Linked DNA regions of Homo sapiens. The protein of the gene in region 3 purifies or fractionates together with the protein of the main gene of each other region. This does not show direct contact. Each region holds a gene or a part of one and is shown on either strand. Other genes may lie near its edges.

What was found. Proteins that work in one complex are often made in the same cells at the same time.
Region 1: the proteins of B3GNT7 (region 3) and ITIH2 purify together in Homo sapiens (affinity purification with mass spectrometry; one large-scale study listed by BioGRID and IntAct). This does not show direct contact.
Region 2: the proteins of B3GNT7 (region 3) and ENTPD7 purify together in Homo sapiens (affinity purification with mass spectrometry; one large-scale study listed by BioGRID and IntAct). This does not show direct contact.
Region 4: the proteins of B3GNT7 (region 3) and ERGIC2 purify together in Homo sapiens (affinity purification with mass spectrometry; one large-scale study listed by BioGRID and IntAct). This does not show direct contact.

Annotation. Positions count from the first base shown.
Region 1 is NC_000010.11:7,723,816-7,727,315, reverse strand, and holds part of ITIH2 (inter-alpha-trypsin inhibitor heavy chain H2 precursor), read right to left. Parts: intron 367-3,500; coding exon 198-366; intron 1-197. UniProt on the Homo sapiens protein: May act as a carrier of hyaluronan in serum or as a binding protein between hyaluronan and other matrix protein, including those on cell surfaces in tissues to regulate the localization, synthesis and degradation of hyaluronan which are essential to cells undergoing biological processes.
Region 2 is NC_000010.11:99,676,509-99,680,008, forward strand, and holds part of ENTPD7 (ectonucleoside triphosphate diphosphohydrolase 7), read left to right. Parts: intron 1-2,752; coding exon 2,753-2,958; intron 2,959-3,216; coding exon 3,217-3,367; intron 3,368-3,500. UniProt on the Homo sapiens protein: Catalyzes the hydrolysis of nucleoside triphosphates and diphosphates in a calcium- or magnesium-dependent manner. Preferentially hydrolyzes nucleoside 5'-triphosphates, with substrate preference for UTP > GTP > CTP.
Region 3 is NC_000002.12:231,394,503-231,398,509, reverse strand, and holds the start of B3GNT7 (UDP-GlcNAc:betaGal beta-1,3-N-acetylglucosaminyltransferase 7), read right to left. Parts: upstream 2,801-4,007; 5' UTR 2,707-2,800; coding exon 2,696-2,706; intron 780-2,695; coding exon 1-779.
Region 4 is NC_000012.12:29,346,673-29,350,172, forward strand, and holds part of ERGIC2 (endoplasmic reticulum-Golgi intermediate compartment protein 2), read right to left. Parts: intron 3,397-3,500; coding exon 3,341-3,396; intron 2,506-3,340; coding exon 2,407-2,505; intron 1-2,406. UniProt on the Homo sapiens protein: Possible role in transport between endoplasmic reticulum and Golgi.

The DNA of each region.
Region 1 (3,500 bases), on a different chromosome or scaffold from region 3:
AAAGCTTATGTGGGCTGTATTACAAATTCTACTTTCACTACAAACTTAGCATTCATCCATTACCAATAAATGTATTATTTAAGATAGGCCCTCGAATGCTGGGGAAAGACCACTGTGATGGGAATAATGCTTCTTAAGTGAATCATGATTTGAACCCAGAGGAAGTGTCTCCTTGGGATTTAGCCCAACACACTCACCTCCACTGGGCTGGATTTTCTCAATATACCTCTTGGCATCTGCAACCTGTGTTTTTGTAGCTGAAATTAAATCATTTCTCCAAGTTCGAATGTTCTGGTTGAAATCAATCACAGAGAAATGGTCTTCTGCTCTGAGGTCATCCAATATGGTCTTCATTGCTTCCACAGTCTATTTCAATAGAGAATAAAGACAGGTCCCATTACAGAAAATCTGAGCCTCAGAGGAACTAGGAAGACCAATCATTGATCCTGGTCATCTTTCAAGTTCTTCTCAAGCTAAACTTCTTCCAGAAAACCTCTTGAGCCCACCTCAGTCAATGCAGACCTGCCCCTTATTTATTCTGGGCATGTACTGTTGGCTTTTTGATAATTTTACTATCTATTTTGCTATGCACAACCAGTTTGACTAGTCTTTATGTTAAGGATCACAAACTTCGAGTGCCACCTTTATGATGCCTGAAAATAAAATACATTTCTCAAGTCCATCTACTCACCCAGTCTCTTAAACTATTTCCTCATCTTTCTCTTTAAACCACCACCATCACCCTCTTTCTCTAGCTTACGTGTGATGATTTTGATTCCAACTCCACTGAGAAACTGCAGCAGACAGAAGAACATTCCCACAGACTCCCACTACCATAAAATCCCAACCATCAATATTTGTACCCATACATTTTTCTTTCCTACCTGATAATAAAGAACAACTAGCAGTATTTCTACCTAATGCAAACCCATCTATTCATGAACTATTTCATTCCCTCTCTTTGACTAAAGATCATGGCTCCAGCAATTGTCCTTTGCCTCTTCAATTTCCCTATTCTATTGGTACATTTCCATCAACAAAAACATGTTATTTCTCACCCTTCTACAAACCTCATGTGCATCCACTTTCTTCATTTCTCAGCTTTCTTCTGCAATAAAATTCCTTGAGGAATTGTCTAAACACACTGTCTCCAAATCTTCTCTTCCTATTCTCTCATAAGCCCAATCCTTTCGGGTTTTCATCCCTGTCACTCTACTGAAACTGCCCTTGTCAAGGTCACCAATGATGCTAATGTCACTAAATCCAAAGGTCCATCTTCATTTCTCATGCACCGGCAAGTGCTCTCATCTCCCTCCTGAACACAAATTCCTCAATTGTCTTCCAGGGCCTCATTCTCTCTTGATTTTTCTCCCCCACTTACTAATTGTTTTTATTAGTCTCTATCACCAATTATCCTCTTCTTCCCAAATTCCCAATATTGGAATGCTCTGTTGTCTGATCTTGGCTCCCTTGTCCATCTACTCCTCGGCATTCTCACCTAGTCCCAATGCTGACAGTACCTTCTATATGCTGGGGAGTCCTAACTGTGTGTCTCCACATCTCACTTTTGAACACCACGCTTCCATGGCCAACGTGGGTACTTAATAGAAATCTCAGACTTTGCATCCAAAACCAAACTGGGACATTCCCTGCAATGTCTGATTACATTTCTGTCTTTGTCAACTCATGGATGGCCACTTCATCCTTCTAGTCACTCAGGCTAAGTCCTGGGGCATCTTTCACTTCTCTTTTCTTCCCTTGCCTCACAGCTAGCCCTTCAGGATATACTGTTTACTCTACCTTCAAAACAGATTCCAGAATCCAGCTCTGATCATGACTGCACAGGTGTTCCATGAGCCACCTTGCCTCTCACTTCTCAGATCTCATCTCCCACTGCCCCTCTCTACTGGCATCTCTCTCTGTTCTTTGCACACTTTCGACTTAGAACTGTTGCATGAGCTGTTCATTGCATTTAATTCCCTTAGATATCTGCACAACTCTCCCTTCACCTTCTCAGGGTCTCCTCAGAGGTCTTCTCCAGGAAACCACCTATTTAGATGACAAGCCTATTTAAAATTGCATACCCCTGCAATTGCCACTCTTGGTTTTTAACATATGCTTCTTTTATTTTTTAAAAAAACTTTTATCAAAATGCTGCCATTGAACGTACTTGTACATTTGTACTTGCATGTGTATTGTTTATTCTCTGTCCCCTATCCCTCAGATGTAAGTTTCATAAGCACACAGAGGGTAGGCATCCGTTTTTTTTCTGTTTTTTGTTTGGTTTCTGTTTTTATGCTTTGGGTCTGTTTTGCTCATAGATGAACTAAGTGTATGACACATAGTAGGTGCTTCGTAAATATTTGTTAAATGAATGAGTGATGGAAGGAAGGAAGCAGTGAATAAACTGTTGTATTAGAGCAATGTTTCTCAACCAGAGGCAATTATTCCCCCCAGCGGACATTTGGCAATGTCTGACGTTATATTTGATTGTTATGATGCAGGGGAGGTTGTGCTACCAAAATTTAGCAAATAGACCATAGACCATGCTGCTAAGTATCCTGCAATGCACCAGACAGCCCTCCTACAACAAGGAATGACCCCATCCAAAATATCAATAGTCCCACTGCTGAGAAACCCTGCCTGGGAGTACAGACCCAGGCAGGCAGGGTCTGTGAAAGACAGGGTCTTCTTTTTCCTCTTCTTCGTCTTCGTCTTCTTCCTCTTCTTTTTTTTTTTTTTTTTGAGATGGAGTTTCGCTCTTGTTGCCCAGGCTGGAGTGCAATGGCGCGATCTCTGCTCGCTGCAACTCCCGCTTCCTGGGTTCAAGCAATTCTCCTGCCTCAGCCTCCCGAGTAGCTGGGATTACAGGCATGCACCACCACGCCTGGCTAATTTTGTATTTTTAGTAGAGACAGGGTTTCTCCATGTTGGTCAGGCTGGTCTCAAACTCCCAACCTCAGGTGATCCACCTGCCTTGGCCTCCCAAAGTACTGGGATTACAGGCGTGAGCCACTGTGCCTGGCTGACAGGGACTTCTTTTAGGTTCCTTACAGATCTTAGGGTAGTAGTGAACTCTTGGGTGGTCAAAAATAGTTGCCCTATGACTGGTTAGTTGGTTGTTCAACTTGGTTGAATGGATGGATGGATTGATGGGTAAGTTAAATCATTTCCTTGTTTGGTCTTTAGTATTGCATCTGTACATCTCACTTATCACTAAGTAAGCCTATATTGAGCTCTGAGCTGGAAAACATAAGATGGATAGCTGCTCTCAAGCAATTACCATATAATTAGAAATAATATGTATATATTGAATCAATAGTCATATGTGGACAATGACAAGATATTATAATAAAACATGTGGAAGAGCAAAAAGAATGTGACTGATCCTTGAAAGAAGAGGTTATATAGAGATTCTGTTTTTCAAAGAGGTGAGTTTTGAGACAGTTTTTCAAGGAAATATTGGATAGAGAGTGGAAAAGAGAAAGAGAAGGAAGAGG
Region 2 (3,500 bases), on a different chromosome or scaffold from region 3:
ATTCTGTGAAGCATGTGAAATAGAAAGATTGCTATGATTGGAAATGAAAAGTCACTTTGGAATGGGGGTGGATTATCTTGCCTATTTCTTTTTTATCTTTGGCCTTTTGTGAGGTCAGTATTTGCAAGAGTTCTGTGACTTGAACCCAGACTTTTGCCCAGCTCTCATATGATAGAAGTGAGCTGTTGCTAGTTGATTGGTGGATTCTAGCCCAGTTCAGCCCAGTGATTTGATTTATGGGAAGATATGTGGTGAAATGGAATCTTTAGCATTAGAAACTTTCTGTTATGTAACAGATTTTTACCATCTGCTTCATTTCCCTCAACTCACTACCATTTCAGATCCAGAAAAAAAGTTCTACCTACCCCTACTCTCAGTAATAATTTACATTATATTGAAGCTCAGTTCCCTGTTCTCTTTTTTAAAAAAATGCATTTTGCATTGTAATATAGGAAAGGTACTCTACTTTTTTATTTCAGAATTATTTCTACATGCACTTCTTTTTATCAAGTTTGCTTTTCTGCCCAAATAAGGAATAGTGTGGTTTTGTCTAACGATGTGAAATCACCAATAAACACTGGCTAGATTGGTTTCAGGAGCGTGATGCGTGGTTTGTTGTTCTGATTGGGGGTGGTTTTATTGTGAAGCTAATGATCCCTATACCTTAAAGCCCCTCACTTACATGGGCTTTTTTTCTATTTGTAATGCTGAATCTTGTTTTTAAAAGAAGGCTTTCCAAATTCTGTTAGCTTCAGACATCACAAAAGCTGGTTCTGAGGGGTTCTGTGTAAGAGCCTTGGAGATCTAGGAGTTGGCTTTAAAGACAATGTTGGATGAGCAGGGCAGATAGCTTTTTTTTTTTTTTTTTTTTTTTGAGATGGAGTCTCGCTCTGTCACCCAGGCTAGAGTGCAGTGGCACGATCTCAGCTCACCGAAACCTCCGCCTCCCAGGTTCAAGCGATTCTCCTGCCTCAGCCTCCTGAGTAGCTGGGATTACAGGCTCCCACCACCATGCCTGGCTAATTTTTGTATTTTTAGTAGAAATGGGGTTTCACCATGTTGGCCAGGCTGGTCTCGAATTCCTGATCTCAGGTGATCTGCCCACCTCAGCCTCCCAAAGTGCTGGCATAACAGGCGTGAGCCACTGCGCCCAGCCAAGTGCTCAGAAGTATTTTAATCAACTCTTAGTCTTCTTTATTTTCTGAACTTTTAAGCCTTTTTCCTCAGAGTCTTCTACTATTTACTTTCCCAATGATTATTCTGTTAACAGCGGCAGCACAGTTCTGCTATGTGTATGATCTCTGTGAGTGTAGATACCCTTCACTCTCCTTGTTTTACAGATGAGGAAACAGTCTGAGAGAAGTTTATTAACTTGCCTAAGGTCACACAGCATAGAAAGCAATAGAGCTGAGATTCAAACCTTGCTATGTTTCATGGAACACCTTTACTTGTTTCATCTTCCTGATGTCAGCCAGCCAGATATCTTGGAATGAGAATCTGAAAAAATTCCAACACAAAATACTAATGTCCTAGGGGCCAAGAATTATTATTATTATTTTTTAAAAATATAATTTATTTTTTAAACTTGGTGGTAGGTACACAGGCATTTGTTTTATTGTTATTCTTTATACCCTATACATATTTTATTATCATTCTTTTTATGTTTATAAAATATTTAGGCCAGGCGCGGTGGCTCACGTCTGTAATCCCAGCACTTTGGGAGGCTGAGGCAGGCGGATCACGAGGTCAGGAGATCGAGACCATCCTGGCTAACACGGTGAAACCCCGTCTCTACTAAAAATACAAAAAATTAGCCAGGCGTGGTGGCGGGTGCCTGTAGTCCCAGCTACTTGGGAGGCTGAGGCAGGAGAATGGCATGAACCTGGGAGGCGAAGCGTGCAGTGAGCTGAGATCATGCCACTGCACTCTAGCCTAGGAGACAGAGCGAGACTCCATCTCAAAAAAAGAAAAAAGAAAAAAAAAGATATATGTATATATATAAAATATTGTAGAAAAGAATAATTATTGTTTTTATGAATTACATTTTTAATGCAATTCTAGCAATATAAATACAAAACAAAAAGCAAAACCAAAAAGCCCAATCAAAAATATCACCACCCAGGCGAGGTGCAGTGGCTCATGCCTGTAATCCCAGCACTTTGGGAGGCTGAGGCAGGAGAATTGGTTGAATTTGGGAGGCAGAGGTTGCAGTGAGCTGAGATCGTGCCACTGCGCTCCAGTCTGGGTGACAGAATAAGACTCCGTCTCAAAAAAAAAAAAAAATCACCTCCCAGAAACTCATTAAATGAGAAATCATTCCACAATATTCTGGATGCATCTATACAGAAAGATAGAAAAGAAGTGATTAAGATTGTCTCAGTTATCTAGTGTGCGTTAACAAGCTACCCCAAAACTTAATAGCATATAACAAAAAACCAATTATTTATTCAGGGCTACAAGCTCTAATGCTTGAAAAAAGATTGCTACCTTAGCCAGTTTCAGAGCTGCCCCCACACGTGGGGACATCTTTTAGTCATCTAATTTCAGTGGCTTCTAGGCAAGTGAACCAGCTATTGTCTCAAGCACATCAGTAAATCTGTCAATATTGCTTCACTCATTGGTTAGGACTGGTAGTCCCATGTGCTTAGCACATGTAGGCACTTAATGAAGATTCATGAACAAATGAAGTAAGTGAGGGCGCCTTTCATGGACCTGACTGCTTAGCACTGATTTCTCTTTTTGCCTGACTTAGGTATTTGGCTCGAGTAGGGGAGCTTGAAGCTACTGACACTGAAGACCCAAATCTGAATTATGGACTTGTTGTTGACTGTGGCAGCAGTGGTTCCCGGATTTTTGTTTATTTCTGGCCAAGACATAATGGGAACCCCCATGACTTGCTGGACATCAAACAGATGAGAGACCGCAACAGCCAACCAGTGGTTAAAAAAATCAAGCCAGGTACTAATCAGAATATATTTTGTTGTCAGTCTCTTTTAAGGCATGAAAGAGGAGACAAAAGAAGCAGAAAGCAAGCTACCCCTTTCTTCTTGAGAGTCTGGGTAATGGGAGGGATATCTCTTTCATTGTCACCCCCTACCTCTCAAATAAATAAATGTTTAGGACCTTGAGGAGAACTTTATAGGGTATCAGTTTCCTGAGTCTTATGTGAGCCGCTTTTTAAAGAAAGTTTTGTCTGTTTGTTTGTTTTAACTTAAGGAATCTCTGCAATGGCAGACACTCCAGAACATGCCAGTGATTACCTTCGTCCTCTGCTGAGCTTTGCTGCTGCTCATGTGCCTGTGAAGAAGCACAAGGAGACCCCTCTTTACATCCTCTGCACAGCAGGCATGAGGCTTCTCCCTGAGAGGTGAGATGCAGGGTACAGGAAACACAGGAAAACGGTGGCACAAGAGATGAAAGGCCAGTTTCATGCACTGTCCTCTGTGGTTCCCTGGTCTATACCCCTAAACCCAATTATGACACAATCATTCATTCCCAAC
Region 3 (4,007 bases):
ACAGGTTTTCCTGTGGCTGCCGGTCAGCCAGAAATTCTAGCAGGTTGGTGGGGTTGACGAAGACGTCATCGTCGCCTTTGAAAATGAAGGGGACGTGGGGGCAGTAGATGTCCAGCCACTTGAGGAAGTGGATCTCCTTGAGGGTCAGGTTGAAGAAGGTGTCGAGAAAGCCCCACTGCAGGATGTCGCCGTAGAGGCGGTCTTCGTAGGCCAGCAGCTGCTGGTAGTGCGTGCGCTCCTCCTGCTTGGAGGCCGTGCCCAGCAGGAAGAGGGTGCGCACGGCGCCTCGGCCCCCACCCGCGGACTGCCGCTCGCGGCCCCAGGTCTGGCGGATGGCCTCGCGGCGGTCGTGCTGCGTGATGACCGACTTGACAACCACCAGCAGGTAGACATCGCCCCTGCACTTCTCCGGGTGGTTCAGCAGCATGGGGAAGTAGCGGCAGTGGCGGTAGAAGAGAAACTGCCGGAACTGCGGCTCCAGGACCTGGAACCAGGGCTGGTGGGTCAAGTTGATATTGGCTGAGCAGTTAGTGGTGGTCACGTCCCAGGCCTGGGGCCCCTGAGAGGCCATGGGCGTGGGCGCAGCCACATCTTTCGGGTTCTTCCAGAAGTTGTTGGGGTTCACCAGCTGTCCATTTGGCTTCTGGGCCTTCTGTGGCTCCAGGGTGGGTGGCGGAGGCTCCTGCAGAAACTGACCAGGGGTGAGACTGCGTTGGAACACCGTCACGGCCACGAGCAGGGCCAGGGCCAGGCACAGACTCCGGTAGACGGTTTTCTTCCTGTGGGGGAGAGCGGACAGTACAGAGGAGAGAGAAAAGATGAGCCCAGGGCTCTCCTGGCGCCCCCCTTGGGAGGCTGGGTGGTCCCAGACGGGCAAGTGGACCTGGGCACAGGCTCAGTCCCGGAGTCCCTAAGCTGTCAGGGTAGGGTCCCGCTTCCTCTCCCACCCTGCCCTTTCTTTCTCCCACCCTGCCCTCTCCTCAAGGAGCACTGTGGAATCAGGCCCTGACGCTTACAAGCTGAATGAGTGGTTTACAACCACTCTGAGCCACGATTTCTTCTTCCCCCAAATGGGGCTAAAACACAGGATTGGAGTGCTATATAAAGTACCAGGCAGCGGGTGCACAGTTAGGGGAATGCTGTCACCTTAACAGGAGGGCCTCAGGTGGAAACCTCTGCCCTGTTCCCCACGCCTGGAACCCCAATGCCTTTCATTTCCCTGCGGTGTACCTACCCACAGCAGTAGGTATCGGTATCATTAGGTGACTCAGAGCCAGAGTCATTGAGAGGGCACCCTCTGATCCTCTGTGCCGCCCGGGAGCTCCATCACATGTGGGGCACATTGGAGAGTGGCTCGAGCTTGGGACCTGAGGAAGACTGGCCCTCCTCCCCCTTCTCCAGTCTGTCTCACCCAACAAAGAGCAGCCCTCATGGTTGATGGAGGCCCAAGGATGCAGTGAGCACCTCTAGCATGGCACTGCCCCTCACCCCTACCTTAACATCCCCAGCTCATAACACCCCATTAGAAGACATGAGGCTACAGCTCTACTCCCTGGGAGGGGGCACATTTGCAGCTCCAGCCCTTGAGGGACCCTTCTTGCCCAGAGACCCCCCCACCCCAACCCCGGTCCACACCCATTTCGGAAGCAGAAATTAGAGCTCTCTGCCAGGAGTGCTGGTCGTCCCAAGCCCTGGGGCCTGAGCCCCTGTCCTGAAGGACCTCCTCTCTTCATCTCACCCTCCGGGGGCTGCCAGGACACCTGCCCCACCCTCCCCAGTGGAGACCTGGGGGCTGAGAGCTCTGGGGACAGCAGAGTGGCCTTCCAGGGCCAGCCTAGCAGAGAGATGGCGCTGACCTCCAAGGGGGAGGAGCAGGGTGCCAGGAGAGACAGGCAGCCCGTGGAGACGCCTGGGTTGCCCTGAGGGCTGGTCCGGTTGCAGGTCCAGGCCCCAGGGTGAATGCAGGCTGAGCCCCATAGAGCGACATTTTCCCCATAGGGTCCCCAGGTTGCTGGGGCATGTGGTTGGAGGAAGACAGGGGCACCTTAGGTGCAGGCTGGGGGGTGTGACCCAAGGTCCAGCTCTCCGGGGAGGAAACGGAGGGCTCCGGATCCGGCCCTGCCAGCCCTAGGGGTTCCAGGGAAGCCGCCCACCGAGGCCGGGACGGGGGAGGTCGGGGGGTGCACCGGGAAGGCGGCGAGGCCCTGGGCTGCGGGCGCTCCACCTGCCGGGTCCGCTCCATTCGTAGGGAAAGCCCGGGAGGGGCGGAGAGGGGCCGGGCGGGCGGCGGTCCGAGGTCCCGCGGAAGGAAGCCCCGAGAGGAGGAGAGTGGCCCGGACGCAGGGGGCCCTCAGGGGTCTGGAAGGGAGAGGGGACCCAGCTGCCGGCAAGACCTGGGGTCCCAGCCGCCAGGGTCCTGGAGCGGTGTCCAGGGCCGCGGGGCCGGGGAGCTGAGCGCGGCGCCCCGAGACCCCTCGACGTCCCCCACGGGTCCGGGGCCGCGTACCGCGAACATCTCCCGCCGCCGCCGCCGCGCCCGCCCGCCCATCCGCCCCCGGGAAACTGAGGCCGGCGCGGCGCGCGCGGGGGCATCTCCTATCCCGGGAGTCCCGGCGCCCGTCTGTGGCCACGGAGGAGGGGGAGCCCCGGGCCCACGCCCCCGCCCAGGCCCCCGACGGCCCCCAGCCCCACTCACCACAGCGACATGGCGGCCCGGGCCGGAGCGGCGGAGGGGCGAGCGGCTCGCAGCTCTGGGCGCCACGGCTCGGGCCGGCGGGACGGCGGGCGGGTGGGGACGGAGACCGGGCCGCGCCCCCGCCGCGACTTTCCTCTTCCCGGCCGCGGGAGGAGGGGCCGGCAGGGGCGGTGGCCCAGGTGCCTTAACCCCTTCGGCGCCCAGGGCCCGCCCCGCCGCCGCCTGGCGGGGACCACCCCATTTCTCCGAGACGGCCCCTAGGCTCCCCAAGCGCGCCTAGTAGACAGTGCATGGCCGAGGCGGGGCTTCGGAACCCACGGGGGTCACCTCCAATCCCGGGGACGCCTGTCCCTGGCGGAGCCTCCCGGGGCGGGGGGAGGGCGGTCGCCGGTCCCTCCTGTACTTGTGCGAAACCTGAACACCCGGTCCCCTCCAAGACCCTGGGGCACCCCAAGGCCCAGCCATTTCCCTCTGGCCCCATTCGGACTTGTCTTTGGGGCCAGAGGCAGACAGGGTGTCCTTTTCTCCCTCTGCTACCTTCTGCCCCTGCACCTTTCCCCTGACCAGACGGACCCCTTGCCCAGCTGTTGGGCTACCTAGGGCCAGGAGCAAAGCCAGCCACTAGGGAAAGAGGCCGTATGAGACTGGGCTCCATGTCAGGACTCGCCCAGGCCTGTGGCTCTGGAAGCTTTTTTTGTGCCCCCACCATGTCCCTCTCTTCACCTCTGGGGTTCCTCCCACCTCTGAGGGCTCCCCACCACCAAGGGAAGGCCTGTTGGCCCAGCCCTATCTCCTTTCTTTTTTCACTTATCACTCAAAACCCTTTTTGTCCTCAAGCCTTTATTAGTCTGCTTGTGCACATCAGGCCTAGCGGCTCTGGGGAGTGGGCTGACAGAGAACACGGAGAGGGCTTGGTCCAGCCAGGTGACTTCCAGAATCCTCCAGCAGGGAGAGCCATCGCTGGTCCTGTTGTTGCTCAGGTTGTTCTGGTCTTGTTCCGGGTTGAGGTTTCGGTGCTTAGCATCCAGCAGGACCTCCAAAAGGCCCACAGAATTGAAACGGAAGCACGTTGTGGTCCAATCATAACAGCTAACGTCCACTGAGCAGCTACAATATGCCAAACCTGGTTCTCGGCCCATGCATGACTGGCTCACTTAATCCTAGAGACATACGCTATTATTCCCACCTTACAGGGGAGGAAACGGGGGTGCAGAGGGGAACTCCCAGCCAGCTCAGAGAACAGCGAGCCCAGAGTTAGTAAGCACATCCAGGAGGCCTGCATGGCCTGAAGGCTGGCTCTGAACCCTTCCTG
Region 4 (3,500 bases), on a different chromosome or scaffold from region 3:
TCAATGATGGCCTGGGGTTACTGTATAATCAAAAGGATCATTTTTATACAGTCATTAGGCATCTCTAAGTTTGACACAAGTTTTAAATACCAGAATATTACCAATTACTAATTAACTGTAAACAATTACCCATTCACATAATATAAAACATGTTAATTCTCCGGGTCTAGAGAATTCTCTAGAAAAAGTATAATTAGATACACCTATCCATAGATTCAACTAGAGAAGCAAGTAAATGTTTTTATTATCCTTTTGTTAGAGATGAAGCAACTCAAGTACAGGGATGTTAAGAAACAGGCCAAAGTCCAAGTTATTAAGTGGCAGAGTGAGAACTTGAACCCAGGCGGTTCCACTCAAGGGGAATATGGTCTTAAATTTAAGCAGAAAAAATTCTCCCAGATTTAAATAGAAGCTTGCACCCCTTTGTACATAAAAGAGTAAAAGCTTTGACCTTCCTCTCCACTTCTCTCTCACTCATGGAAGGAATGATTCATCTGCAAAAAGTAATCATGTGTGGCTAAGCCACTCAATTAGATAGTATAGGCATTCTCTCTCTTAAACAGCTCTGTCTTCAAGACATACATAACCACCTTCTACCATTAGGAAAGTGAGCCATCCCTGCCATTTGAGAAGTCAGCAGGGTAGGAGGAGTATGGAGTTAGGTTGTCCAGTTTGTGGCAGCACATATAGGTTGTTTTATTTCTACCGGCTTCATTAATAATAAAGCTGCCTGCAATGCTCTCAAAAAGATAATCGCTTAGCTCACTTATTTACTTCACTCAAGTTTTTTTCAAATACCACAGCCTCTTCCATGCCCTTTCTCATATCATAGGCAATCTCCTTTATTTTGTTCAGAGCCGTTTGCCCTAACACTTATTACCTAAAGATCTAATTCCCTATAGGAACGTGCGCTCTATGAAGGGCAGGGACTATGTCTACCTTGTTTATCCAAATCTGTACTGCATTAAAGATGTTAATTGTTAAGTAACTCCTGCAATACTTCTGGAGAACATCAGGAAAGGGATAGCTACCTGACATAGCAGATATGTAATGTTGATTTTTTTCTTTTTGGAAAAAGAGGCTGAAAAAAACATATATTACGAAGGAGAAAAGTATACAAACTGCTTTAAAGCTTTGAAAAACCTGATGATACTCACCTAACGGCATTTCAGAATATGACTCTAAATACCTCTTAGTTTCTCTGAATTTATAAAGAAGTACACTTAAAAACAGCTTTTTGAAAATTGACCTGTTTATATTTAGAAGAGCTTCTGTGCAAAAATTTGTAGTTCATTTTAGCATCTTGAAACAAAGCATCGACCAGTATGTTTCCAAATGAGCATCTCTCAGGTAACATGCAATGCATTTCAGAGGAGAATTAACATATGCTTAGATTACAGATTAGATTATACTGACTAAAGCTTATAAATCTCAAAATGTTTCCATCCACACATTTCTAAATTTAGTACACTCAGGTTTCCTGAAGTGAAACATTCCCACATGAACATAAAATATTCATGAATGTAAATCAGTATTCTAAATTCTAAACATCTTTAATATATGATTATAACACTGCTAAAAAGTAAAGAATATGAATAAATCTGAATAGGATATTAATAAATCTACTTAAATTAATAAAAAACTAAATCCTTAATTACAATTTTACAAAGGATAGAATTCCTACTAGCTGAACAAGCTTCAGAAGTCCTTAAAATGTCCAATAGCTGGAACATGGTATATAATATGACTATTTTAGAAAGAGGCAATCAAAAACCTGCAGAAAACATGAGAACAGACTACTTTCTAAAAAACTAAGAAAATGATCTTTCCATATTTGGATAGACTTGATACTTTAAATGGAGCAGAAGGTTAAATAGAACATTTTAAAAAGGTTATCTGTGCTATAATGTACTCCTTCTATGTTAATAACCAAACCATTCCAGAATAACTAGGTTTCTGGTGTTTGTAAAATTCTCCAGAGAGGTTTCTGAAATGATATATATGCATTTTAAAACTTTGAACCTATATTATACAAAGAAGAAAATTCTTCTCATAATGTTGAACCTTTTTTTCATTCTTATTCTTTGGTGAATACAAAAAAGTGCAGTTATGCCCTGTTAATGTATTAACCTTTCATCTATTTCTACTGTTTAAATTGAACTCCTTCTGCCTTTTAATTCCTTCATCTTTTAACTTGAATTTCTTTATTCTGTTCTATGGCTCATTTTTGAATATTCAAATTTCATCCACTACTAGGACAAATTCTCTTCACATACATCTCAATCACCAACCACTTAAAGATTATCTTTACACAGTAGTTAGGAAGACATTAAAAATGTATTAATATTCAGGTTATAAGCAAAATTTTCTACATGTAAAATCCAACAATAATTATTAAATACTTACGATCTATAGCAATTTTTTCAGTTCCATCTAAAGGATTAATAATTGCTGGAACAAGCTCTCCAAAAGACAAATGATCTATTCTATGAGAAAAATTGTAAGCTAAAAGGCAAAAAATAAAAACAACTTAGCAGAGAAATTATATTATTCAAAATTACTTGGTACAGACTGGTTTACATCCTTATCTATTCTCAAATGAAAATGTTTAAAATCTTCAAGGATAATAATACAGTATTTTAAGCCACAATACTTTGAGAAAAATAAATGTAAATATATGCGAATTAAATGTATAAAATAAATTCTGACAAAATGCTATATCTCAAATTTAATAATTATATACAATTTAACGTCTAGAAAATATTAATATATAATGAAAGCCAAAAATATACATCTTTCCTTTTCCAAATCATCATATAGTTAACAGGACGGTATTGTTAGAATTGGAATGATGGCCATGTGGCCATATAATAAAACTGATCAGATATATTTTTAATACACTATTGCTAAATGTGACCAAACTAATTTTCTGTGGAATCCATTACTTGTTTTGTCCTCTAAAGCAGACTTTAAGAACTTAAGTCTTAAGACAATCATGATACCAAACTAACCTGAATACTTTATACATGTCTATACATCCATATTTCAATTTGCAAATTGAAATAAACTGCAAATATATTATTTTCTTTATCCCTAAAAATTAGCAGAAATGTGTACAAAGTTATAGAAAGTACACTAGGCTTTCCTCCCTAACCTCAGCAACTCAGAGCCATGACCAAATACAAATGCAGATTAAAGTAAATCAATTTAAAAATTTATTTTTTCCTTTGGATGAATATGTTTTCAAAACAGCTCACTTTCAACTACACTATATCTGCACTTTTAAAAATAATATTTTTTCAAGTACATCTTTACTGAAAAAAAGTCAGAATCTGCTTACATTCATGGTTGACAAGTGCTGCCAAATGTGCATGACCACGAGGATGTGGAATTGCCCTGAAAGGAGAAAAAACAATTATTAAAGTAGTACCATTTATATGTATAATTAATTAAAATCAGAAACTGGATCTTCCCTAAGTTATATAATTTTTCTTAGTACA